3 separate regions of the Homo sapiens genome follow, and regions 1 and 2 are each linked to region 3. The links come from fine-mapping of genetic effects on gene expression. A gene starts in region 3. Each other region holds a variant in brackets. All regions are shown on one strand. Distances are from middle to middle.

Region 1 (8,178 bases), 35 kb before region 3:
TTGACAAGACTAACATCTCTTCCCATGAGATGACCCTAGGGAAAGAACAGAATAAATACAAACATCTGTACCTTCAGAAAACTTCCCTAAAACAAAAAGATTTGGAACTACATATTGAAAGAGTACACCATGTATTTGAGAAGACAGACCCAGGGTAACCAACATCAAAACATGTTCTAGTAAAATTACCAATCTAAAAAAAAAAAAAAAATCCTTGAGTCCAGGTTAAAAGAGTGAGGGACTTATACTAAAATAAAAATTAGATTGTCGTGCGACTTTTCAACCACAACACGTTCTGCCAGAAGAAAAAGGAGAAACATACTGTACTTAAAATACTCGAGAGAAAATGTGAGCCAAGTACTATGCACCCAGCAAAACAGACTTTGGAGTATAAAAGGCACAAACAAAAAGCAGCCCCAAAGGACTCAGGAAATAATGTTCTCAGGGTCTGAGGGGCCCAAGGAGCCTATCAGAGAATGACCTTCAGGCAACCAATAGAGTCCTCAATGGAAGCACTAGATAAGGAACCAAGGCTAAACCAAGGCTGAAAAGGAGAGTATAGTGTCTTGGATAGCGACTACTTGGGGCCAGTGTCACTGGAAGTAAAGGAATTTACCAAGACAGTTGTAGGTAAAGAAAGGCAGATTTATTGAAGTATGAAAGGTAGGTGGCTCACGCCTGTAATCCCAGCACTTTGGGAGGCCGAGGCGGGCGGATCACGAGGTCAGGAGATCGAGACCATCCCGGCTAAAACGGTGAAACCCCGTCTCTACTAAAAATACAAAAAATTAGCCGGGCGTAGTGGCGGGCGCCTGTAGTCCCAGCTACTTGGCAGGCTGAGGCAGGAGAATGACGTGAACCCGGGAGGCGGAGCTTGCAGTGAGCCGAGATCCCGCCACTGCACTCCAGCCTGGGCGACAGAGCGAGACTCCGTCTCAAAAAAAAAAAAAAAAAAAAAAAGGTAGGATGCAGTGGCTCACGCCTGTAATCCTAGCACTTTAGGAGGCCAAGGTGGGCAGATTACCTGAGGTCAGGAGTTTGAGACCAGCTTGGGCAACATGGTGAAACCCCGTCTCTACTAAAAATACAAAAAAATTAGCCAGGTATGGTGGTGCATGGCTGTAGTCTCATCTACTCAGGAGGCTGAGGCAGAAGAATCACTTGAACCTGGGAGGTGGATGTTGCAGTGATCCGAGATCGCACTGTTGCACTCCAGCCTGGGTGACAGTGAGACTCTGTCGAAAGAAAGAAGGAAAGAAGGAGAGAAGGAGAGAAACAGAGAAAGAGAGAAAGAGAGACAGAGAGAAAGAAAGAAAGAAAAGAAAGACGTTGCAAGGGTGCAATGGGCAGATCAGCAAGAGAGGAGCTGACTGCCAGGAGACAGAGGCTTGCTGGGGATTTCGCAGGACGGTGCTCGTGCTGTGTGCTGGAGTGGGCCATGTGAAGTATCGCTAACACCAAGGTTGCAGCGAGCTAACTTGCATTTTTCTATCAGCCAAGGGTCTGGTGATGAGTCAGGTGTGGGAAGGTTGTGAGTTATTTGTGCAGGAGGGCTATGTGTTCTGGATCAAGAAGAAAGGCAGACTTATAGCTTATCTGAGTTTTTTTTTTTTTTGCCAGCCTCACTCCTTTTCCCTTATTAGGACCTATGTTTTGCGTGTGATGGCTACATTTTCTGACCGTGTAGATACAGATGGGATAAGGAAACTGGGTGGAGAATGGGGAGAGCATATGAGAACAATGTAATTGTTTTCAGTAATGCTGGTAGAGTATTAGTAGCAGTAGTGGTGGTTGTCATTAGGATTTTACTATTGTTATTCTAAGACCATTGAGTGTGTAAAGTGGAAAAGAGCAAATAAACAACTATGAGAGACAGTGTACATTCATTTTCCTGAGAAGCAGAATTCTAAGTGTGGAAGAAAGAAGATGGCAAATGTAATATAGTAGGGTTTAAGTCAAAACTCTAGTCCTGAATTCTAATTGGAAATATTAGTTTGAACTCATGAGGCCCTTTTATGTTTTAAAAAAATGTTGGTATATTTCCTAGCTCTGTCCACTGTAAAGGTCTTAAAGGAAAAAAAAGACCAACCCAGTAGCAATGAGCATCCCTAGAATCCACACTGTGGTCTTGAAATACAAACTCCTACAGCAAGAAACCAGGGCTTTTTGGAGCAATGGCTGATTCTAGGTCTGGAGCAGGAAATATGCAAGATGAGTGGAGCCACCCTGACACATTGCATAGCACGAAACCGTCAAAGCCACCAGGGCCACCTCCAAGGCTTCTGCCGCCAACTTAAGAGGCATCCACTGGGCAAAGATCAAACCATTTGAGCTTGGAAAAGGATAGTCATTGCCATTGATTGAAGCTTTCAAATGTTTGTTTGTTTATTTATTTATTTATTTTGAGACGGAGTCTTGCTCTTTCGCCCAGGCTGGAGTCCAGTGGCACGATCTTGGGTCACCGCAACCTTTGCCTCCTGGGTTCAAGCAATTCTCCTGCCTCAGCCTCCCAAGCAGCTGGGATTACAGGTGTGCACCACCATGCCTAATTAATTTTTTTGTATTTTTAGTAGAGACAAGGTTTCACCATTTTGTCCAGGCTGGTCTCGAACTCCTGACCTCAGGTGATCTGCCCGCCTCGGCCTCCCACAGTGCTGGGATTACAGGCGGGAGCCACCCGTGCGACCTCAAATATGTTTAAATCCAAGTGTTTGTAGTGTTATTAAATAAGAAAACCTTGATTGTTCCATGGTGGAAGGTGAGAGGGAACTAAGTCACTCTCCCAAAACTGGTAAAGAAGAGAAGGTGCATTTCTTTTTTCTCTTTTTTGAAATGGAGTTTTGTTCTGTCATCCAGACTGGAGCACAGTGGCACAATCTCAGCTCACTGCAACCTCCACCTCCCCAGTTCAAGTGATCCTCCTGCCTCGGCCTCCTGAGTAGCTGAGACTAGAGGTGCATGCTATCACGCCTGGCTAATTTTTGTATTTTTAGTAGAGACAGGGTTTCGCCATATTGGCCAGGCTGGTCTTGAACTCCTGACCTTAGGTGATTCACCTGCCTTGGCTCCCAAAGGGTTGGGATTACAGGCATGAGCCACTATGGCTGGCCCAGCCCCATTTCTTATTTGAACTGTGCCACTGGGTAGCCAGCAGCAGATGAGAAGAAGCATCTCTTTCTAAGAGGGTGCCACAGAATAACTAAAACAGGAACATTAGAGTCAGAATTGCATCATTGCAGCCCCTGATGAATTAATGGGCCTGGGCCTGGAGCATCAAGAGCTACTGACGTCACCAGGGGAGAGACAAGCTGGCCTTCCCGTGCCCTGCAGTGGGAACACAAGGCAACCTTTGGGCTCGCCAAGGGACTGAACAGGAGCCTGACGGAGCTTCTGGACCCAGCTGCCAATTTGCAGAGAACGTAGAGGACAGAGGAGGGTGTCAAACAGCAGAGTGAACCTGAAGCAACACAATGCGGGCTGCAGGAAACGGCGAGGAAAAGACAGGGAGGGAGGCGCAGCCTGCAGGTGACTAGAGACTTATCAAAAGGCACGTCAAAAATGTCTACAAGGCTGGGCGTGGTGGCTCACGCCTGTAATCCCAGCACTTTGGGAGGCCAAGGGGGGGTGGATCACTTGAGGTCAGGAGTTTATGACCAGCCTGGTCAACATGGTGAAACCCCACATCTACTAAAAATACAAAAATTAGCCAGGCATGGTGGTGTGCGCCTGTAATCCTAGCTACTTGGAAGGCTGAGGCAGGAGAATTGCTTGAACCGGGGAGGTGGAGGTTGCAGTGAGCTGAGATTGCGCCACTGCACTTCAGCCTGGCTGACAAAGTGAGACTCAGTCTCAAAAAAAAAAAAAATGGTCTACCACGTCAAGATTAAACTACATTATCTAGAGAAGGATGGTTGGGTGATAAGCCTGTAAAACAAAACCCACAACGAGGCTATTTCCCTAAAAGTTAGGACACTGGTTGCTTAACAGCAGGCAGGGCTGTTATTGTACCTCAGGGGACTCAGGGGCAACAAAGTTCTCTTTCTTGGCCTGGAAGGCGGTTCAAAAGAATTCACTTTGTGATAATCACTAAGGTGCACACATGTTTTGTATGTTTCTCTGAGGCTGCGTGAAAAGGTGAGAAATGAGAGCTGTGCTGCTACCACAAATAATGAGAATATCAGAAAACCTGATACAAGGCCAATGGAGTCACTAACGACTCACTGGGGACCAGGGATGTCTTCCTGGAGGAGGTGGAATCGGAGCAGGGCTTCGGAGAGTGGACGGGATTTGGGGTAGACCAGGGTTTCACAACCTTGACATTGACATCTGGGGATCATTCTCTGGTGAGGGGCCGTTCCGTGCACTGCAGGGTGCTGAGCAACATCCC[A/G]GGCCTCCACGCATTTGATGCCACTTGGCACCCCCAGACCCCGAACAGTTGTGACAATCAAAAGCATTTCGAGAAATTGCCAAATGTTCCCTGGGAACAAAATTTACCCCAGTTGATTTTTTTTTTTTTTTTTTTTTTTTGAGATGGAGTCTCATTCTTGCCCGGGCTGGAGTGCGGTCGTGTGATCTCGGCTCACTGCAACCTCTGCCCCTAGGGTTCAAGCAAGTCTCCTGCTTCAGCCTCCCGAGTAGCTGGGATTACAGGCCCCTGCCACCATGCCCAGCTAATTTTTGTATTTTTAGTAGAGACGGGGTTTCACCATGTTGGCCAGGCTGCTCTTGAACTCCTGACCTCAAGCGATCAGCCTGCCTCGGCCTCCCAAAGCACTGGGATTACAGGTGTGAGCCACCGCACCTGGCCCAAAATTTCCCCCAGCTGAGAACTGCTGGATCCGAGAACCACGCACAGATTAGAAATGGAGAAAAGCCTGAAACTCCCTGGAGGGTCTGAGCTTTGCAGACGCTCCCTCCTGCCCTTAGGTGTTAGTTCTGTGAGAGGCCAGCATGGCCACTGCCTGAGGTCCTCACAGGAGTCTGCTTCCTGCCCAGCCTTACCCTGGGTCTCACAGCCTGACCTCGGGCCTTCCTGCAGACCTGCCTGCTGTCCCAGCTGGAGCTCCTTCTCTCGAGAGTTCCTGTGACCCTGGCTGTGGCCAGAGCCGGGGTGCGGGATGGTCCCAGGCCTGATGGTGTCTGACCACGTGATCACACCCTCCCCAGACCGAGGAGGAACCTGGGGCTGGGAGGGAAGTGCCTTGCCCACAGCCACACGGAGGGCAGAAGCAGCCCTTCCCGGGCCCAGGCTGCTACTCGGCCCAGCCAGCTGCGTCTGACGGTGGCAGAGCTGCAGTGTCAGCGCCGGGAGGGCCCGCAGAGCCCCATGGGCAGGCTCTTATTTCACTGGTGGGGAGACTGAGGCCCTGGGGTGGGGGTTCCAGGCTAGTTATGGACAGAGCCAGACCAGAACTCAGATGTCCTTACTCCCAGGGTAGATGGGACCCTCGTTTGAGCATGTCATTATTAAGCCCCTGCGTTGTCCTAAGAGCTTTCTCTCATGTGTCCTTTCTGAGCACCTGCGGCGTCTATGCCACTCCACTGAGTTCTGTAAACCCCACAGGTAGGGGCAGAGGCCAGAGGGGTGGGTGACATGGTCAGCCTGCATCCCAGGGCACCCTGGACAGAGTGAACCAGAGGACGGGTGTGGAGTACGTAGCGGAACATCCTGGGAACTGCTACTCTCATGACCCTTGTGGCTACCATCAACCGTTTCAAGAGAGACTGCAGGGAGGCCCCACTGCTCCAGACCTGGGAGCCCCATGTTTCCAAGGCCCTGAGTTCCTCTATAAGTCCCAGGGGCAGGAGGAGGGGACGTGGAAGGTTGAGCTCCCACGCCCACCCAGCTTCACTTGGATTTGCCTAAAACGTTCTTTGAAACAAAGAATTCTATTGTTTAAGACACTGTTCTCAAACCAGGCACTGGGGCTGGAACCTGTGCCTTCTGGAATTCCCTGCCCTCTCGGAGGACTCCGAGACCTGGCTGCAGCCACCCCTGATTCTCCTGCACCGAGGAACACCCCGTGGGATGTGCTGGCCACTGATGGCTGACCTCTGTGCCGCCGTTGCCAAGGGTGGCCGGACTAAAGACACGCTTGTGAGAGCACCACGGGCTCCAGAGGAGTGGCTCCTGCTTCTGGGGGAGCAGCCAAAGCCTGCTCTGCGCTGCTTTGCAGAGACCTCTGAGCCAGCCAGGTGCTCCCAGGGGACGGGTGGGCCGCCGGCCTGCAGGTTATGCACAAAGCAAGGAAGTGTGACGCCACCAGAGGGAGGTAAACAGAAGGACGCTTCCTCTTTCGCTTCCACAGGCCTCCTGCCTGATCCAGAAGGTTCTCAAACTACAGAAATATTTCCCTCCCAGCCTGTACAGGGGCTCAGGTAGCACTTCTGATGTTGCCCTCCTTGTTGGGGAGGAAAGGGAATTTTTTATTTTTATTTTTATTTTTTATTTTTTAGAAGGAGTCTCGCTCTGTCGCCCAGGTTGGAGTGCAGTGGCCCGATCTCAGCTCACTGCAAGCTCTGCCTCCTGGGTTCACGCCATTCTCCTGCCTCAGCTTCCCGAGTAGCTGGGACTACAGGCGCCCACCACCACACCCGGCTAATTTTTTGTATTTTTAGTAGAGACGGGGTTTCACCGTGTTAGCCAGGATGGTCTGGATCTCCTGACCTCGTGATCCACCTGCCTCAGCCTCCCAAAGTGCTGGGATTACAGGCGTGAGCCACTGCACTCGGCCTTTTTTTGTTGTTATTTTTGAGATGGAGTCTCACTCTGTCGCCCAGGCTGGAATGCAATGGTGCAATCTTGGCTCATTGCAGCCTCGGCCTCCTGGGTTCAAGAGCCTCACCTGCCTCTGCCTCCTGAGTAGCTGGGATTACAGGTGCCTGCCATCATGCCCTTTGTATTTTTTGTAGAGAAGGGGTTTTGCCATGCTGGCCAGGCTGGTCTCGAACTCCTGACCTCAAGTGATCCACCCACCTCAGCATCTCAAAGTGTTGGGATTACAGGCATGAGCCACTGGCGCCCAGCATTGAGTATGCATCATTTGTATGTGTTGGATACACTTCAAGTCTTCTCTTCTAGCTATTTTGAAATATACAGTAGTTGTTAACCAGAGTCACCCTACTCTGCTATCCAACGTTAGAACTTATTCCTCCTATCTAACTGTATGTTTGTACCGTTAGCCAACCTCTCTTCATTCCCCCACCCTCCTTTCCCTTCCCAGCCTCTGTTAACCAACATTCTACTCTCCACCTTCATGAGATCCACTTTTTTTGGCTCCCATGTACGAGTGAGAACGTGCCACATTTGTCTTTCTGTGCCTGGCTTATTTCACTTAACACAGTGACCTCCAGTTCCATCCACGTTGCTGCAAATGACAGGATTTTATTCTCATTTTATGGCTGGATAATATTCCATTGTGTAAATATACCGCCCTTTCTTTATCTTTTCATCTGTTGGTGACACTCCGGTTGAGTCCGTATCTTTGCTGTTGTGAATAGTGCTGCAGTTGATGTTTATGCGGGTGCAAGCATCCCTTTAATAGATGGATTTTCTTTCCTTTAAATACCTGGTAGTGGGATTGCTGGATGGTTTGTAGTTCTACTTTCAGTTTTTTGAGAAATCTCCTTACTGTTTTCCATAATGGCTGTACTAATTTATGCTCCCACCAACCAGTGGATGAATCCCTTTCTGTCCACATCCTTGCCAGCATCTGTTATTTTTTGCCTTTTTAATAACAGCCATTCTGGCTGGGGTGAGATGATATCACATTGCAGTTTTGATTTGCATTTCCCTGATGATAGTGATGTTGAGCATTTTTTTCATATACCTGTTGGCCATTGTGTGTCTTCTTCTGAGAGATGTCTATTTGTCTATTTAGATCCTTTGCTCACTTTTTAATGGAATTGTTTTAAAAACAAACAAAACAGGTGAGAGGACACTGCTAGAATCACAGAGGTGAGCTGGGGGTGTCTTGATGGCTGACAGCAGCTCACCCCCACCCCACCCACTTTACAGATGAGAAAACTGAGTCCCCGAGGGTTTAAGTGTTTAAACGTTTAACAGGTGATTGGTTGACATTGTGAACAGACAGGTTCTGGCACTGCAGCTTTAGGGGAGCCAGAAAGCCCTGCTTACTCCCAAATTGTTCCTCACTGTCCCATTGCAGAGAACATTTC
Region 2 (8,178 bases), 61 kb after region 3:
TCACTTAGAGCAAGCTTGTCCAACCTGTGGCCTGCAGGCTGTACGTGGCCCAGGACGGCTTTGAATGAGGCCCAACACAAATTTGTAAACTTTCTTAAAACATATGTTGAGTTTTTTTTGCAATCTTTTTCCTTCTAGCTCATCAGCGATCGTTAATGTTAGTGTATTTTATGTGTGGCCCAAGACAATTCTTCTTCCACTGTGGCTCAGGGAAGCCACAAGAGTGCACACCCCTGATTTAAAGCAAGTTTGAATTGTTTCTGATAATTTTAAAACAAGTGCAACTGTTAATACATTTTTAGTAGTGTGTCCTTGGCAGTGCCATGGTGTGTCGCTTCTTCCATGACCATGGTATCTTGAGTGTGGAAGCTGGGATTCCTGCCCTGCTCATCCCTCCAGGCCCCCAGCGGCCCCTCCTGCCTGCAGACCATCATTTCTTGGGGATTTTCCCTGTTTGCCCGTCAGCGCTGTGAGCTGCCCCTCCCTGCGGATCTGTGTGCGCTTCCCTGTCGCCCGAGAGGCCGCTGAGTAGCTCCCCGTGCTCTGAGACCCCACACTCCCCCGCACCGTGGCCTGCGCGCCCTTTGTCCATGTTTCTCCTGTTCTTGCTCATGGATTTGCAGATGACGTTCACATTTAAATTGCATTTTATAGTTTTCAAAATATTTTCGCATCTACACTCTCCTCCTATCTGGTCACCCTCCAAGCAGCCACCCCATCATGGGATCTGCTGAGAAATCCTCATGCCTTACTCCTTGAGCATGATAGGATTTTTTTTTTTTTACATGTTTAATGTGAAAAGAACACTCCAGTGGAGTATATACCTAAGTATATATTAGGCATTGGCTGGTACCATTTTTTTTTTTTTGACAGGGTCCCTCTCCCATTGCCCGTGGCTGGAGTGTAGTGGCACAATCGCTGCTTACTGCAGCCTGGACCTCCCGAGTAGCTGGGGCTATATAGGTGCGCACCACCACACCCGGCTAATTTTTGTATTTTGAGTAGAGATGGGGTTTCACCGTGCTGCTCAGGCTGGTCTCAAACTCCTGGGCTCAAGCAGTCCTCCCGCCTCGGCCCCGCCAAAGTGCTGGGATTACAGGTGTGAGCCACTGCGCCCGGCCATGGTATCAGTTTTGATGGCTGTGTTCCCTTGTCTAAAAATAATGTGGGAAAATCCGTGGCACAGTATGTGCTTGCAAAACTGCTATAAAACAAATACTGTGAACTCAAATACATACCACCAAGAGGGTGGGACCACTCTTGAGATACCTGAATAGCAAACTTTACATGTTAGAAGGTAATAAGAGCCTGCTAAATCATTTCCCCCCATATTCAAATCATGAGCCTCAGATGATAAAGTAATAGGATCCATGATACAGTAAAAATATTGACAAAAGTCTAGTAATGCTTTAAACCAAACAACAAAAAAAGGAAAAATTAGGGAAATTATTTTTCTAAATTTAATTTTTTTCAGTTCGTTCTTAGTTATAAGCATTTCAAGGCTGGGCGCAGTGGCTCACGCCTGTAATCCCAGCACTTTGGGGGGCCGAAGCAGGAGGATTGCTTGAGTCTAGGAGTTCGAGACCAGCCTGGGCAACGTGGGGAAACCCTATCTCTACTAAAACTGCCAAACATCAGCCAGGCGTGGTGGCATCAGCCAGGCGTGGTGGCATCAGCCAGGCGTGGTGGCCCATGGCTGTAGTCCCGGCTACTCGGGGGTCTGAAGCGGGAGAATCGCTTGAGCCGGGAGGCTGAGGCTGCAGTGAGCCATGATCATGCCACTGCACTCCAGCCTGGGTGGCAGAGTGAGACTCTGTCTCAAAATAAACAAACAAACAAAAATAAAAATTCTGATTTCAAAGAGTCTAAAAGCAATCATTATGTTGACTTTGCTTAGCTTAGACAGAAACCCTGAGCGCACTCTCTAGACACTGGGAGCACTGCCAGTTCTGCTTGTTCACATACAGTCGGTCTCATCATTTGGAGATTCCGTATTTGCAAATTCGACCACCTGCTAATATTTACTTGTAACTCCCAAAACAGATACTCGTGGTATTTTCTTGGTGATCCACAGACATCCACGTGCACAGACGGGGGAAAAACTTGAGTCACCTGATATGGATTTTCTGGGCCAACAAGTGTCCTCTCCTCGGCCTGATTGGTGCCACAGTTTTCACATTTTTTGCTTTTCGTTGGTGATTTTGCCATTTAAGAAAGCCTCAAGCATGGAGCTCCCTAAGCACAAGGAGGCGGTGACGTGTCTTGCAGAGAAAATGCATGTGTGAGATGAGCTTGGTTCAGGCCGCAGTGACAGTGCTGGCGGCCGTGGGTTTCGTGTTAATGAATCAATCATACGTAGTCAATAAGGTGTCTGTGAACAGAGCACGCGGAGAACAAGGTTATGCACTGATGGGTGGATGACAACGTCAGGGCCAGAGGCTCCCAGGACCCTGAGCCGGCGTGTCCCCTAGGAGCAGTGGTTCCATATCCGCTAATTCAGCACGTGCAGTAAATGTATAGAATATGACTTCACCAGTATCGAGACTGACTGATTTCTCACGTTCCCGTGGCCTCCTGTTAGAACTGCATGGTGATGGCCGACCAGAACCAGGTGTGGGTTGGCTCGGAAGACTCCGTCATCTACATCATCAACGTCCACAGCATGTCCTGCAACAAGCAGCTCACAGCCCACTGCTCCAGTGTCACGGATTTGATTGTGCAGGACGGACAGGAGGCACCCAGGTGCAGTAAGCTCTGCTGGGGAGAAGGGACTGTTTGGCTTGTGGGTGGGCAGAAGGCACAGCGGGTAGGGTTCCCAAGTCTTGTGCCCACAGGGGCCAGGCGGGGCGTACAGAGTGAAGTGGATCTAGAACGAGGAAAGCTGGGTGGTGTCCTCGGTCTGCTTCTGCTCACGGGTGCGGAGAACCCATGACACCAGTGTGGGCCAAGCGTGGTGATGAAGGCACCACACCCGGCCTTCCTGCTGAGCTTGCTGTGGGCACTGTGGCATGGGGCAGCCCCGAGAGGGCACAGCCTCCCAGAGGTGCACCAGCCATGGTGTCAGAAGCCTGGACTCGCCTGATAATCGCCTGAGTGCTCAGTGTTGGCCTTGGGCTGCCTGTTCGCTGCTGTTTCCCACAGTGGGAGCAGCACTGGACACGGGGCATCCAGGGAGACGGGAGGAGGAGGTGGGGTCTCCTTGAGCAGAGGCTCATGGTGGGGAAAGTGCACAAGGCTGCCCACTTGGTCCAGGCAGCCCCAGCCCTGGGTGAGGGGCCACACTCCCCACTCCTTTTTCCCCTGACTTAGTGTCGGGGGCGCCTGTGTCAGGCCCTGTTGGGGTGGGTAGGGAGGTGCTAGTCTGGAAGCAAAGCTGGCTCAGGAGGTTCAGGGGTGGCGCAGGGTGCAGGCTCGAGCCCAGCCCCGCCCACAGCCGCCTGCACCTGCAGCCAGCCCATGTCACCCGAGAGCTCTGAGGATCGTGCTGGCTCCCTGGTCCCTTGTGTGAACGGGGACCGCTGACGAGGTTCCATTTCAGTTCATGGTCATGTCATGGCTCTATGACAACACCTCATTGAGCCTGCGGCCCGCGGTGGTGGGAGAGGTGGGCGTCCCGAGAAACCCGCCTTTTCCTGCCGAGTCAGTTACATTTGAGCCAAGCCTGGCTGTGGCTGCATTCATAGCATGTTTGCATGTTATTATCATGTTTGCAGGTTACGTTTGCAGGTTATTATGTTTGCATGTTATTATCATGTTTGCAGGTTATCCGTGTTGAGCACATTTTCTCTCATGGCGACTTGGTTCTCTCTTGGGTTAAAATGTGCACAGTGTTTTCAGGGGCCCAAGTTAAAGGTGTGTGTGTGTGTTTTGTGCCCCCAGCAACGTGTACTCGTGCAGCATGGACGGCATGGTGCTGGTGTGGAATGTGAGCACACTGCAGGTGACCAGCCGCTTCCAGCTGCC[G/A]CGAGGTGGCCTGACGTCCATCAGACTGCACGGCGGCCGCCTGTGGTGCTGTAAGTCCGGCCCCTGCCATCAGAGCGGGCACCCTACCTCCCTGCTCTGGGAAAAGGATGCTGAACGAGAGCAGAAAGCCTCTTTCCTTTGCTTCACGCCTTTCCAGTCTTTATTTTAAACTCGGGTTCCCTTTCTGTGGTCGCAGCAACCTTTACTCCACCTGCACTGCTGCTCCTGGGGGCTCCCCAGGCCTCCCTCTGCCTTTCTACCCAGCGGCTGACGGGATGCCTGTCTTGCCTGGACGCACCACTGCTCTCCTGTCCCTCACCTTGGCTTTTGCTGTGCCCTGCTCTGGGGTTGAAGCTGGCCCATGTGTCCCCCGGAGTCATGGCTGCTCCTCCTGGGAGGCCTCTGTGTGCGTCACGTCTCCACACCTGGGGGCAGCTGGCGAGCCCGTGCTCTGTTCCCCTCGGCTGCTTGGCACAGAGCTGCAGCCTGGGACTCTCCGTGGACCCAGACTGGGGATTTTGCCAGGGGGGCGATGGGAGGAGCAGGTGCTTTGCCTGGCGGCTGTGTCTGCATTTCTGGACGCCCCAGAGCACAGAAGTTGCCGGCACTTTGAGGTCTTCCTCGGCATGTGCCAGATTACATGAGTGACGGCTGGGAATATGTTTTCTTTTTTGTAATGGAGGCGTGTTTCACATATAGTAAAGCTCACCAAAAAGTGCTCAGTTTGTTGTGTTTTGACAAACATCTAAACTACATAACCATGAAACAAATCAAGACACGCAGCGTTTCCGTCACAGCTGAAAGCGTCTGTGCCCCTTTCCAGGCCGTGCCGCCATTCAGGGGATACAAGTGCTCTTAGTTCTGTCATCTGAATTTGGTTTTTACAGAACTTTCTACAAATGGACTCTACAGTAGGCCTTCTTCTGTATCTGGCTTTATTCAGACAGCAGGATGTTTATAGTATTCATCGCTGACGTTCTGAGTATCAATATCAATAGCTCGTTCCTTCTTGCAGGGTAATAGTCCATTGTGTGCATATGGAACATGCTCATCCTTCCCCTGCCCCAAGTGGGCACTGGGTTCACTCTGCTTAACTGTTTGAAAAACCGTCAGACTGTTTTCTGAAGTGGCGGCAGCAGCTTCCACGCCACCCGCAGTCTCAGGCTTCATTTCTTCACATCCTCACCCAAACTGGTTCTCACCTGTTTTTACTGACACCGTCCCCGCGGGAGTGAAGTGGCGTCTTGTGGTTTGGATCTGTGGCTCCCTCATGGCTGATGGTGCTGAGCACTCTGTCGTGTGCCCGGTGCCCGCTGACGCCTCCCTGGGAGCAGCGCCTGTGCAGGCCCCTGCCCACTGTTCCGCTCACTTTCAGGGCCGGTAGCGACGTGGTTGGGTGCAAGCCAACGGTTGTCCTTCTTCCCCTCATCTGTTATTTGTTCTGTTCTTCCTTTCTTGCCCTCTTTTGTATTGAATATTTTTATGTTCAATTTAATCTTCTTTACTGTTTTTAAGCATTATATTTTTGTTTTATTTTTCAGTGGTTGCTCTAAGAATTGCAATATGCAACCTTAACCGATCACCCTCCTCCTTAACTAACTATGATACTGCTTCATGGATAGGGTAAGAAGCTTACAACAGTATCAAGTGTGGTACTCCCAATAATACATTCTTTAAGATTTTTGCTTAAGCAGTCAATGATCTTTCAAGAAAGTTAAGAAAAATTAAGAAACTGCCCATATATTTACGTTTTCTGGTGAGCCTCATTTCTTCTTAAAGACCCAGGGTTCTAGCTTGCATTTTTTCCCAGTAGACCTCACCTGTGCATTCCTCAGGCGCCAGGTGGCACGTGGTGATCCCCCCCATCACCACGCTGGAAAGAGCAGTGAGGCCGGCTCTGGTGCTGGCGTCTTATGTTGCCAATGACACTGCCTGGCCCCATCCTAGCTCCTTCCTTCCACAGGCACAGGTAACAGCATCATGGTCATGAAAATGAATGGATCCCTCCATCAAGAATTGAAGATTGAGGAGAACTTCAAAGACACCAGTACCTCCTTCCTGGCCTTCCAGCTCCTTCCTGAGGTATCCCAGCAGGGGCTGTGGGCCCAGCATGTGCGTGGCCCGGGGCCCATAGCCCACACCGTGCCCTGCGTTTCAGGAGGAGCAGCTGTGGGCGGCCTGTGCAGGACGCAGCGAGGTTTACATCTGGAGCCTGAAGGACCTGGCCCAGCCCCCGCAGAGGGTGCCCCTCGAGGACTGCTCTGAGATCAACTGCATGATCCGGGTGAAGAAGCAGGTAGGGTGGAGGGCCCGCCATCCCCAGCATCCCCGGCAGGTCTCGCTTGCCCTGGCCGCATCCCCATGCTCCCGAGAGCCAGCCGCACGCCCTCGTGCCCTCCTGCCTTCGCCTCTCAGGGTTCCCCTCCTAACAGGCACGTGCAGGGTTGGTGCCAACGGGCCCACAGGTCACCATGTGCTGGTTTCATGGTGTGGTCCAAGCACTCCACAGCGCATTCCCCCAAACTGGATGGCTTCAAATGACAGAACTTAATTTTCTCACAGTTCTCGACGCTGGAGGTCCAAAACCAAGGTGTCGGCAGAGCCGCTTCCCTCGGGGGCTCGGGGGGAGCGTGCACTCCAGGCCCTTCTCTCCCCCACCCGCTCATGTGGCCGCCGTCCTTGGCGTGCCCTGGCTGTGGACGTGGCACTCTAACCTGTGCCTGCACCACATGGCACTCTCTCTCCCTGTGTGTGTCTCTTATGGGGATGCTGGTCGTACTGGATTAACCAGTGTGACCACATCTGAACTATCTGCAGACTCTACTTCCAAAGAAGCTCACATTCTGAGGTTCAGAGGATATGGATTTGGGGGGACACTGTTCAACCCATTACAGTCTGCCCTCTGGCCCCCTAAATCCACATCTGTTCCACATGCAAAATACACCCCCTCCATCACTACATCCCCCGAAGTCCCAGTCCCTCCAGTGTCAGTTCTGAGCCCCAAATCTCCAAGTGAAGCCAAAGCCCTCCGATGTGGGTGAGCCGTGGGCGGGTCCCACCTGGGGCAGAACCAACCCCTCTTGCACCGTGAACCTGCGCAGCTAGAACAGGCTGTCTCTTCCCAAAACACAAGGCTGGGCCAGGCAGAGGTTAGACATTCTCATCCGAAAAGGGAGAAATTGGAAGGAAAGCTGGACTTCCAGGCCCCGAGCAAGTCGGAGACACGGCGGGGGTGGGGCGGAATTCGTTTAGTGTTTTCCCCCATAACTTAATTGGGGTATAATTGATGAATAAAAATTATATATATCTAAGGTATACAAGGTGATATTTCAGTATACATTGTGAAATAATCACAAGCTAATTACCATATCTGTCACCTCACACAGGTGGCTGTTGTTTGGTGAGAACACTTAAGATGCACCCCAGCACTTTTCCAGCACGCAGTGCAGTCTTCTTCCCCAGAGGCCCCTCGGCCATTAGGTTCTAAGCCCGAGAAGGGTCCTGTGCACCTGCCAGGCGGCCCTGACCCTCAGGCGGCAGAGGCCCTGTCCAGGAAGGACATAGATTTGGAGGCACACGCGTCAATTCTGGGTAGCCGGGCAAAGCCCTGGTGCTCTTGGGAGGGGCTTCTTTCCCTGCTGACCCCTCCCGTTTCTCCCTGGCAGGTCTGGGTGGGCAGCCGAGGGCTGGGGCAGGGAACACCCAAGGGGAAAATCTACGTGATTGACGCCGAGAGGAAGACCGTGGAGAAGGAGCTGGTGGCGCACATGGACACCGTGAGGACGCTGTGCTCGGCTGAGGACAGATACGTGCTGAGTGGGTCGGGCAGGGAGGAGGGGAAAGTCGCCATTTGGAAAGGCGAATAAACGTGGCTGAGTCTGCCAAGTGGAACTGTGCCCTATGTGTGGGGACTGGCTGCCCCCTAGAGCCTGCCAGGAGCAGAAGCCTGGAGGGGTGGCAGGGCAGAGCAGCCCAGGCTCAGCATGGAGCCCACTTACCGTGTGGCCAGCCGCGAGACCCATGGCCACGCACCTTCTCTCAGGCCTTCGGGCCCCCTGGTTAAACTGCACCAAGGGTGTTTCCTGTTGGGGTGTGTCTCAGGCAGGCAGCTGCGTCTTGTTGGTGATAACCTCTGCTGGGAGGTTACTTTGTTGCCTAGAAAGTTCTGGAATCCACAACCAGGGGCTGGCACTGGAGCCAGCAGCTTGGCCGAGT
Region 3 (8,178 bases):
TTTAGTTTTGTGAGGAACTCCCATACTGTTTTCCCCAGCAGCTGCGCCATTTTACATCCCCAACAACAGTCCACAAGGGTTTCAATTTCTTCACATCCTCGCCCACATTTCTTATTTTTTGTTGTTGTGTTATTTTTAAAAAATAACACCTAATGAGTGTGACGTGGTATCTCATTTTAGCTTTGATTTGCATTTCCCTAATGATTAGTGATGTTAAACATGTTTTCATGAGCTTATTGGCCATTTGTGTGTCTTCTAAGAAATGTCTATTTGGGTCTGTTGCCCATTTTTTAATTGGGTTGGATTTTTTTTTGTTGTTGAGTTGTAGGAATTCTTAATATATTCTGAATAGTAACTCTTTGTTTTGTTTTGTTTTGTTTTGTTTTTTTGAGATGGAGTCTCACTTTGTCGCCCAGGCTGGAGTGCAGTGGTGTGATCTTGGCTCACTGCAACCTCTGCCTTCTGAGTTCAAGCGATTCTCCTGCCTCAGCCTCCCGAATAGCTGGGATTCCAGGTGCACGCCACCACGCCTGGCTAATTTTTGTATTTTTAGTAGAGCTGGGGTTTCACCATTTTAGCCAGGCTTGTCTCGAACTCCTGATCTCAAGTGATCTGCCTGCCTTGGCCTCCCAAAGTGCTGGGATTACAGGCATGAGCCACTGCATCTGGCTCTGAATATTAATTCTTTATCAGGTATATGATTTTCTCTTATTCTGTGACTTTTTCACTCTTTTGAAAGAGTTCTTTGATGTACAAAAGTTTTAATTTTGATGAAGACAATTTAACTATTTTTTCTTTCGTTATCTGTGCTTTTGGGGTCATATCCAAGGAATCACTGCCAAATCCAATGTCATGAAGCTTTTCCCTTCATCCTGTATTTTTTAAAAAATAATTTTAACACCTAAAGCGCTGCTAAAATGTCCAAAGTTAATTGACATCCTGCAGCGTCCCCATGAACTCCATTAAAAAAATTTATTCAAGTGAAATTCACACACCATAAAATCATCTTAAAACAAACCATTTAGTACCAGCACATTCACAATGCTGTGCTCGCCCCTCTTTTGGTGTCAGTACTTTATGGTTTATAAATTATGTTTGTTTCTATTTTCTCGTTTGGTCTTCACAGTGTCCCTGAGAGTTAGAGCAGTAAACCCGTTTCACAGGAACATGCAGGGAAGGAGGGTAACGTGCTCTGAGCCCACATGCAGTAAGCACTGACCGTGTTTGCAAGTTTCTTTTATCCAATCCGAGCTTTGCTTTCCTCGACTCTGATGTGGGGCAGTGCTGCCTACTGGGGCAGATGTTCCTGCTGGCTGGGCTCTCCTTGCACCTCTCTTCTTCTCTAGGTCCCCTCATCTGCTCATCTGCCTCGATGTGACTTCCACCTTTGAGTTTGATTGCTAGTCATCTCCACCTCGTATCTCCAAACCCATTAGCAATTTTTCAAGGATGGGACAAAGCTTTCCGTAGGCACTTTGGAAGGACCTGTGGCATGAGAGACGGGAGCGTATTAAAAAGTGCAGAACTGGGAGCCCCTCAGAGGTCATCTGGCCCAATTATCTGGTTTTAAGGAGGAGGAAAAGGGGGCATAAAGGAGTGGATTGCAAGCTCTGTGCACTGCTGGAGCTCTCTTCCTTAAAGCATTTGGCCTCTTGGTGATAAAGGGACAGCAGAGACCTGCTCTCGCGTGAGCCTTACTGGGTCCTGGTGGCAAGAGCTGCCATGTGTTTACCTCCCTTGGATCTTGACCACTGCCCCTCAGGAAGTCACGGCTTAGGGCTGTTGAGCTCACCTGTCACACAGCAACACACAGGAGCCAGACTCAGGCCCTGTGTGCCCTCAGGGAGTGGCTCATGGCTCCAGCCCGGGTTGAGAGCGCCTCTCCTGCATGCTGGGGACTCTAGGTGACGGATTCAGGCTGTGTGCTTTGCAGAGGCTGCTAAAAATGAGGCCACCAAGGCTGGGTGTGGTGGCTCATGCCTGTAATCCCAGCACTTTGGGAGGCCAAGGCGGGTGGATCACCTAAGGTCAGGAGTTTGAGACCAGCTTGGCCAACATGGTGAAACCCCATCTCTACTAAAAATACAAAAAGTAGCCAGGTGTGGTGGTGGGCGCCTGTAATCCCAGCTACTCTGGAGGCTGAGGCAGGAGAATCGCTTGAACCTGGGAGGCAGAGGTTGCAGTGAGCTGAGATCATGCCACTGCACTCCAGCCTGGGCTACAAGAGCAAAACTCTGTCTCAAAAACAAACAGAAAAACAACAACAAAAAACCGAGGCCACCGTCGAGAGAGACAGGCAATTGTTCATGAAATCGGTCTTTCTTTTGAAGTCAGAGACTATAACAACTGTGGCCTCAGCTCACCGATGAGAGCCACCGATGGTAGGCAGCCTCCAGGCCTGGGGGAGAACCAGCAGATCCTCACCATCTTTAGGTTAATAAGTGAAATAAAACCTGTGAGTCAGGCTGCAGTCACGGCCTCACCCGGCTCAGGGAAGGAGGGAGAAATTCCTCAGGGCTCCCTTTTCTGATGTTGCCTTGCTTTGTACTTACTGTTCCTTTTCCTGTTCAGCTGATGACAGATGTTTGACATTAAGCATTTTAGAGTTTTGTTTTTTAGAAAATAGAATCATAGATTATCAGAAGTGGAAGTCCCTTTGGAATAATTTCCCCTGGGTTACACAGATGGCTATGGCAGGGTCAAGGGAGGGGACGGTCAGCGGGGACTGAGCGCAGGCCCCCTCCAGGCTCTGCAGCAATGACCAGGCAGCAAGCCGGCCTCCCGGGCTTGTGGGCTGTCCTCTTTCTCTGGGGTCAGCCTGAGGCTGGAAGAGGCCCGTGGCCCACCGGGCATCAGGCCAAGCCTGGAGCTGACCAGGGAAGGGCCCTGCCAGGCCTTGGGCCTCTGACCCTCAGTCCTGAAGCCTCCCTCTAGCGGCGCCCACCCTGCTCCTTTTCCTGCTGAATTTTACTCAAGTCCGTACTTGAGTATGGCCGGCCCTAGGTTAACCCCGCAGAGTTATTAACCAGGAGTGGCTCTTTCCACCCCCCCTTCCCGCCGGCCCTTCCTGCTGTCCACACCCGGCCAACTCCACTGTCCTGGCAAGGGAGGGCTTCCTGGAGGCGGCAGCGGGCGGCGCGTCCGGCCTTTGTCCCCCCACGCTCTCCAGGGTAGGTCCAGGGACTGCCAGATCAGGGGACCCTTTGCGTCCTGGAGCCTTGGGGGCTGGATGACGTCGCCGGGCACCTGAGGACCCCGCCCATTCCTCCCTCGGTTCCCCAGGGAGCGGGCGGCCGGCGGGGCTGGGCGGGGCCGAAGGAAGGGGCCGCTTGCTCCGACGCCGCGCACGCGCCAGGGCCCGCAGGCGGGTTAGGAAATGACGACCGCGCGCGGGTCTCCAGCAGCACCCGCCCTAGGACCGGCCCCGCCCCCAAGTCCCGGTCCCTAGGGCCGGGCACGCCACTCCAGGCCCCGCCCAGAACCTCCCCGCCCAGTCAAGCCCCGCCCCCAAACTCTGTCTCCCCGCGGTATCCTCTGGGGCTCTCCAGGCCCCGCCTCGGCTCGGGCCCCGCCCCTCCAGGCCCCGCCTCCAGCCCCGCCCCGCAGACGGCGCTCGCAGCGCCCCCGGCCCCCAGGCGGCGCGGCTGGTCCCCAGGGGTCTGCGGGCGACTGCGCGGCTGAGGCGCCCGAGTGCGGTACTGGCGGCGGGCGGCGGGCAGCCATGGCGGAGGCCGCGTCGCCGCACTTGTCGCTGCCCTCGGGGCTGCTGGAGCTCTGCGCGCTGCTGGGCGCCCCCCGGGACAGTCTCCGAAGTCTCGAGCAGGTGAGGGGCGGGGAAACTGAGGCGGACGTGGGCCACGAGTCGGCAGCCGGGACAGCAGTCGGAGAGCGGGCGCCCGGGTGCCCTGTGGGTTGGCGCGGACTTTCCGAGGGCTGAGTCCCGGTCCCCCGGCGGTGACCCCGCGCGCCTGTGGCCGGGGATCGCGCCCGAGCTCAGGCAGGTGCCCTGGAGCAGCGCCCTGCTCCCCTCCCCTCTTCTCTCCTCTCCCCGCCCGGGGCCCTTGGTGTGAGACATGTCTTTTGAGAGCTGCGAACTTGGTCCGCCGGCCGGGAATCTGGGGGTGCCGCCCCTCGGAGAGTCTCTGGGGCCTCTCTCTTCAGTCGCTCCCATCTTGGGCAGGTGCTTCTGAAGGTGGGGTGCACCAGACAACGGGCGGAAGCCGCCGGAGCCTCACGGTCTAGCGGGCCCAGCCCTCGCTGCTGAAATGATTTCATTCTTTATGCTGGGATGTGTTGTCCCCTGAGTAGTGGGTTTTGCACCAGGCACAGAATAACGAGAGAGCAATCTTAGAGTTAGCCGCCGGCCTCGCGTATTCTGCATGAACCCCTTTGCGATGAAGCCTATAGCTATTTTTCTCCCTTGCGGTACCACCCCCACCCCCAACCCTTCCTCCATCTCTGCACCCTCGCAGCCAAAGTGACAACTTCATCTCCCTTCTGCTGGGAAAGCGGCAGTTTTGGAAATTCTCGTTTTCCTTTTTCTTCCCCAGCTTTTCTTAATTCTGTAACGCTGGCTTTCCCTGGAATCCATCTGTGTCTCTGGTTTCCTCCTGGTCCGCCTGTCTGTGACACCGTGACTGGGTCATGTTACCTAGAGATCCCGGCGTCACTGGCCAGCCGTCTGCACAGGTCCGTTCATCTCTTTGCAGACAACAGCATAGAAAGGCAGAGAGGCTTCTGAGTATTTAAATGACGCTGGGCTATCCAGGGAAAATGAAGACTGCAGGGCAGAGGGTGTCACCAGGAAAGGCAGATGTTCCTGCAAGTAACCAGATGAATGTCTGTGAGTGTCCGGGGAGTTTCCCCTGCTGGGCGTCAGTACCAAGCCAGTTTCGACTTCAGTGAAAAAGCATTCTCCTATGGAAATAGTTTCCTCGTTTCCCTCAACTTTTCCTTCCCTTCAACGCCCTGTCATGTCAGTAGATCCCGTTTGACCTCTGTCTCCTCGCAACGTCATCGATTGATTTGTCTCCCTACCTCGAATTTGCCAGATGGCATCTCCTCCTTTTTCTTCGAATAGGAAGTGACCTAGTTGCCGCTGTGGTCTCCTCAGCCGTTGAACGTCTTTCCTCTGGGGCAGTTACAACATGGGTGTTAGTTGCTTGGTGTGACACATGTCTTTTGAGGGCAGGGCGAATCAACTGGAATATTTGCAGTGGTGCTTTCTTTTTTTCAATTTCTTTATTATTATTATTATGTTAATAATAGAGAGGAGGTCTCACTGTGTTGCCCAGACTCATCTCCAATTCCTGAGCTCAAGTGATCCTCCCGCCTCAGCCTTTCAAAGTGCTGGGATTACAGGCGTGAGCCACTGCGCCTGGCCAGTGGTGCATTCCTGAACTAAACACGCTGCAACATTTTCATGTTCCCAGGTCAAGTGAGAGTATGGACAGTCTGCTACTGTGCATGCTTAACTTTGTCCTCTTTACTCTGTCTTTTGATTCTGTTAGGGGTTTGGCAAAGGGTGGAGAGAAAAGTAGTGAAGGACTAAGAAAATAAGGAGCGTTAGGGGATGGATTCCATTTCTTGGAGCCATCCTACTTTTAAGGTCAATATTAATGTTATAGTTAACCAAACATATGATTTTATTTATTTAGATGTTTTTTCGGCGGTTCTATTTTGAATGTCCAAGGCTTTTAAATATATTTTTTTTTTTTTGAGACAGAGTTTTGCTCTGTTGCCCAGGATGGAGTGCCATGGTGCAATCTCGGCTCACTGCAATCTCCGCCTCCTGAGTTCAAGCAATTCTCCTGCCTCAGCCTCCTAAGTAGCTGGGATTACAGGCGTGTGCCACCATGCCCAGCTAATTTTTGTATTTTTAGTAGAGACAGGGTTTCACCACGTTGGTCAGGCTGGTCTCAAACTCCTGACCTCACGATCTGCCCGCCTCGGCCTCCCAAAGTGTTGGGATTATAGGTGTGAGCCACCGCACCTGGCCGCTTTTAAATAATTTTTACCTTGACTTTTACAAATCCCCATTTCTCTGTGGCCCAGGCATTCCTTCTTGATGACACAGGAAAACAGAGGTCCGGAGGTATGAGGAATATCCAGCTTCATGTTGGATAGTGGAGGGCCCTTTTGTTTCATTTCCTAGAAGGGGGAGTAGTGTTTGTTTTTTTAGGAATGGTGACCGAGACTTTGAGAATGCAGGCTAATGTTAGTTACTGTGGTTAGTTACATTCCCCTCCACCCCTTTACTATAGAGCCCTCCCCAACCCCATTATTGGTTGCTATGGAGACTAGACATAGGTGTGACAGGATCCATTATAAATCCATCACACAGGAGTAGAAAGTGTTCTGAGTACCTTGCGTAGTACAGGTCACCCGCATAATTCTTGCGTGTGAAGCTCCATTTTTATGGCTTTTGGTGGACATCGTCCTGACTTTCAGTTTCAGAACAGCACTGGCCAGCTGGCCTTCCTGGGTGATGGCAGTTCGTGTCCTCTCTTTGCACCGTGCAGTACAATAGCCACTGGCCACATGTGGTCACTGAGCTTGTAGTGTGGCCAGTGAGCTAAGAAACTGGGTTTAAAATTTCATTTAATTCTAACTAAACAGTTGGAGAGCAATAAAAAAATTGATTAATTTCTGTTTTATTCCCTTAATAATGGCCAATCCTATAGTGAAGATGAATTCCACTGTGTACTCTAACTTAGAAATTAACCTGTGACTCAAGTAAATTAGAGTGTTCTGGTTTTTACTTTTGAATTAGCAGTTTTAAAAACCAAAATGATGGTTATTGGGTAGGGGTTTAATAAGTCAGCACCTGGGACAGAAGAATGGGAAATGACCTCACCTCCTGCAGCAGACTGGCAGAGGTGACTAGCGTCTCGGTGGTGGCGGGGTCTGGTTGTTCAGGGCAGCCACAACCTGTATCACCAAGTAACCTTGGAACACTCTTGTGCCAAGACTTCCATTTTTAGGAATTTATTCTAGGGAAAGAACTGGGTGCGTGCAAGTGTGTGTCACCGCTCTGTTCAGTGTGGTGAAGACTTGAGAACCACCCACACATCTCTCAGGAGGAGGCTGGGTCAATACATGACTGAGTTGACACATGCTGTGATATTGTGATACTGTACGGTTGTAAACAGGGAGGTCAGCCACATGAAGTAGTTAAAACAGCTAATGGAACCTGTTATGTAGGATGACTACATTTATGAAACAAAATTATACGTTTATACATGCATTAAAATGTATAAAATGCACAAAAAGGCATAAAATGGGAAGGATGTATCCACCCTGTGCAAAGTGTGTCATGGAATTATGGGAGGGCCGTCCCTTTCTATTAGCTCCTTTATTATTTCTATATTTATTATTTTTTTTTGTGGGGGATGGAGTTTCACGCTTGTTGCCCAGGCTGGAGTACAATGGTGCCATCTCGGCTCACTGCAACCTCTGCCTCCCAGGTTCAAGCGATTCTCCTGTCTGAGCCTCCCGAGTAGCTGGGATTACAGGCATGTACGACTATGCCTGGCTAATTTTGTATTTTTAGTAGAGAGGGGGTTTCTCCATGTTGATCAGGCTAGTCTTGAACTCCTGACCTCAGGTGATCTACCTGCCTCAGCCTCCCAAAGTGCTGGGATTACAGGCGTGAGCCACTGTGCCTGGCCTCTATATTGTTATTTTTAAAAATGAGATTGTATTGCTTGTCCATTGAGAAAAGACAACAGAGATTTCATTCTGAGAAAAAACAGGTGTATGGTGAACTACTGAATGCCAAGTTGATCGGATCTGGGGCACATCATTATAAGTGACTAGAGATAACTAGAGGAATGACAGGTGGGGTGTTGAGTCTAGTGTGATCACCAGTGTTCAGTCCAGGCTGAGCATGCCTCTAAGAGATCACCAGGTGCCAGGAGTGTGAATGAGGAACGATATCGCCTCAGTCATCTTCTCTGCTAAATGTGGGGACAGAGAGGAATACAACACAATCTCTGCTCCACCGCATCCCCTCAAATGGAAGGTGGTAAAATACCACTGGGCAGGGCCGAGATGCTCCAGGGGGTGATGAGCTGGGAGGTGGAGGCCTGGAGGAGCCTGTGGTCCTGGCTGCGGGGTGGCAGAGACCTTCTGCAGTGAGCGTGGGGGGTGGAGGGTCTGCCCCCGTGCAGGTGGAGC

The links.
Region 1: its variant is fine-mapped to the expression of DENND3 in whole blood (INTERVAL, PIP above 0.99).
Region 2: its variant is fine-mapped to the expression of DENND3 in whole blood (TOPMed, PIP above 0.99). The same link has a PIP of 0.9 or more in blood mononuclear cells, lung and monocytes.

What each region holds. Positions count from the first base shown.
Region 1 is chr8:141,090,458-141,098,635 of GRCh38, forward strand. No RefSeq gene overlaps it. Among named protein-coding and RNA genes, the nearest start is that of DENND3, 34 kb to the right of the region's middle. RefSeq lists a silencer at 4,091-4,324 and an enhancer at 4,570-5,569. The variant A/G (reference allele first, on the strand shown) is at 4,388.
Region 2 is chr8:141,186,405-141,194,582 of GRCh38, forward strand. DENND3 (DENN domain containing 3) reads left to right here. Exons shown (of 23, transcript NM_001352890.3): 19 at 2,582-2,742; 20 at 3,880-4,013; 21 at 5,927-6,045; 22 at 6,122-6,259; 23 at 7,629-8,178. The coding sequence ends at 7,829. Among named protein-coding and RNA genes, the nearest start is that of DENND3-AS1, 60 kb to the left of the region's middle. RefSeq lists enhancers at 5,721-6,221, 6,222-6,722. The variant G/A (reference allele first, on the strand shown) is at 3,964.
Region 3 is chr8:141,124,987-141,133,164 of GRCh38, forward strand. DENND3 (DENN domain containing 3) reads left to right here and starts at 3,603. Exons shown (of 23, transcript NM_001352890.3): 1 at 3,603-3,823. The coding sequence starts at 3,722. DENND3-AS1 (DENND3 antisense RNA 1) reads right to left here and starts at 5,155. Exons shown (of 2, transcript NR_183310.1): 1 at 5,038-5,155; 2 at 1-1,485. RefSeq lists enhancers at 2,199-3,030, 3,864-4,694 and a silencer at 3,149-4,008.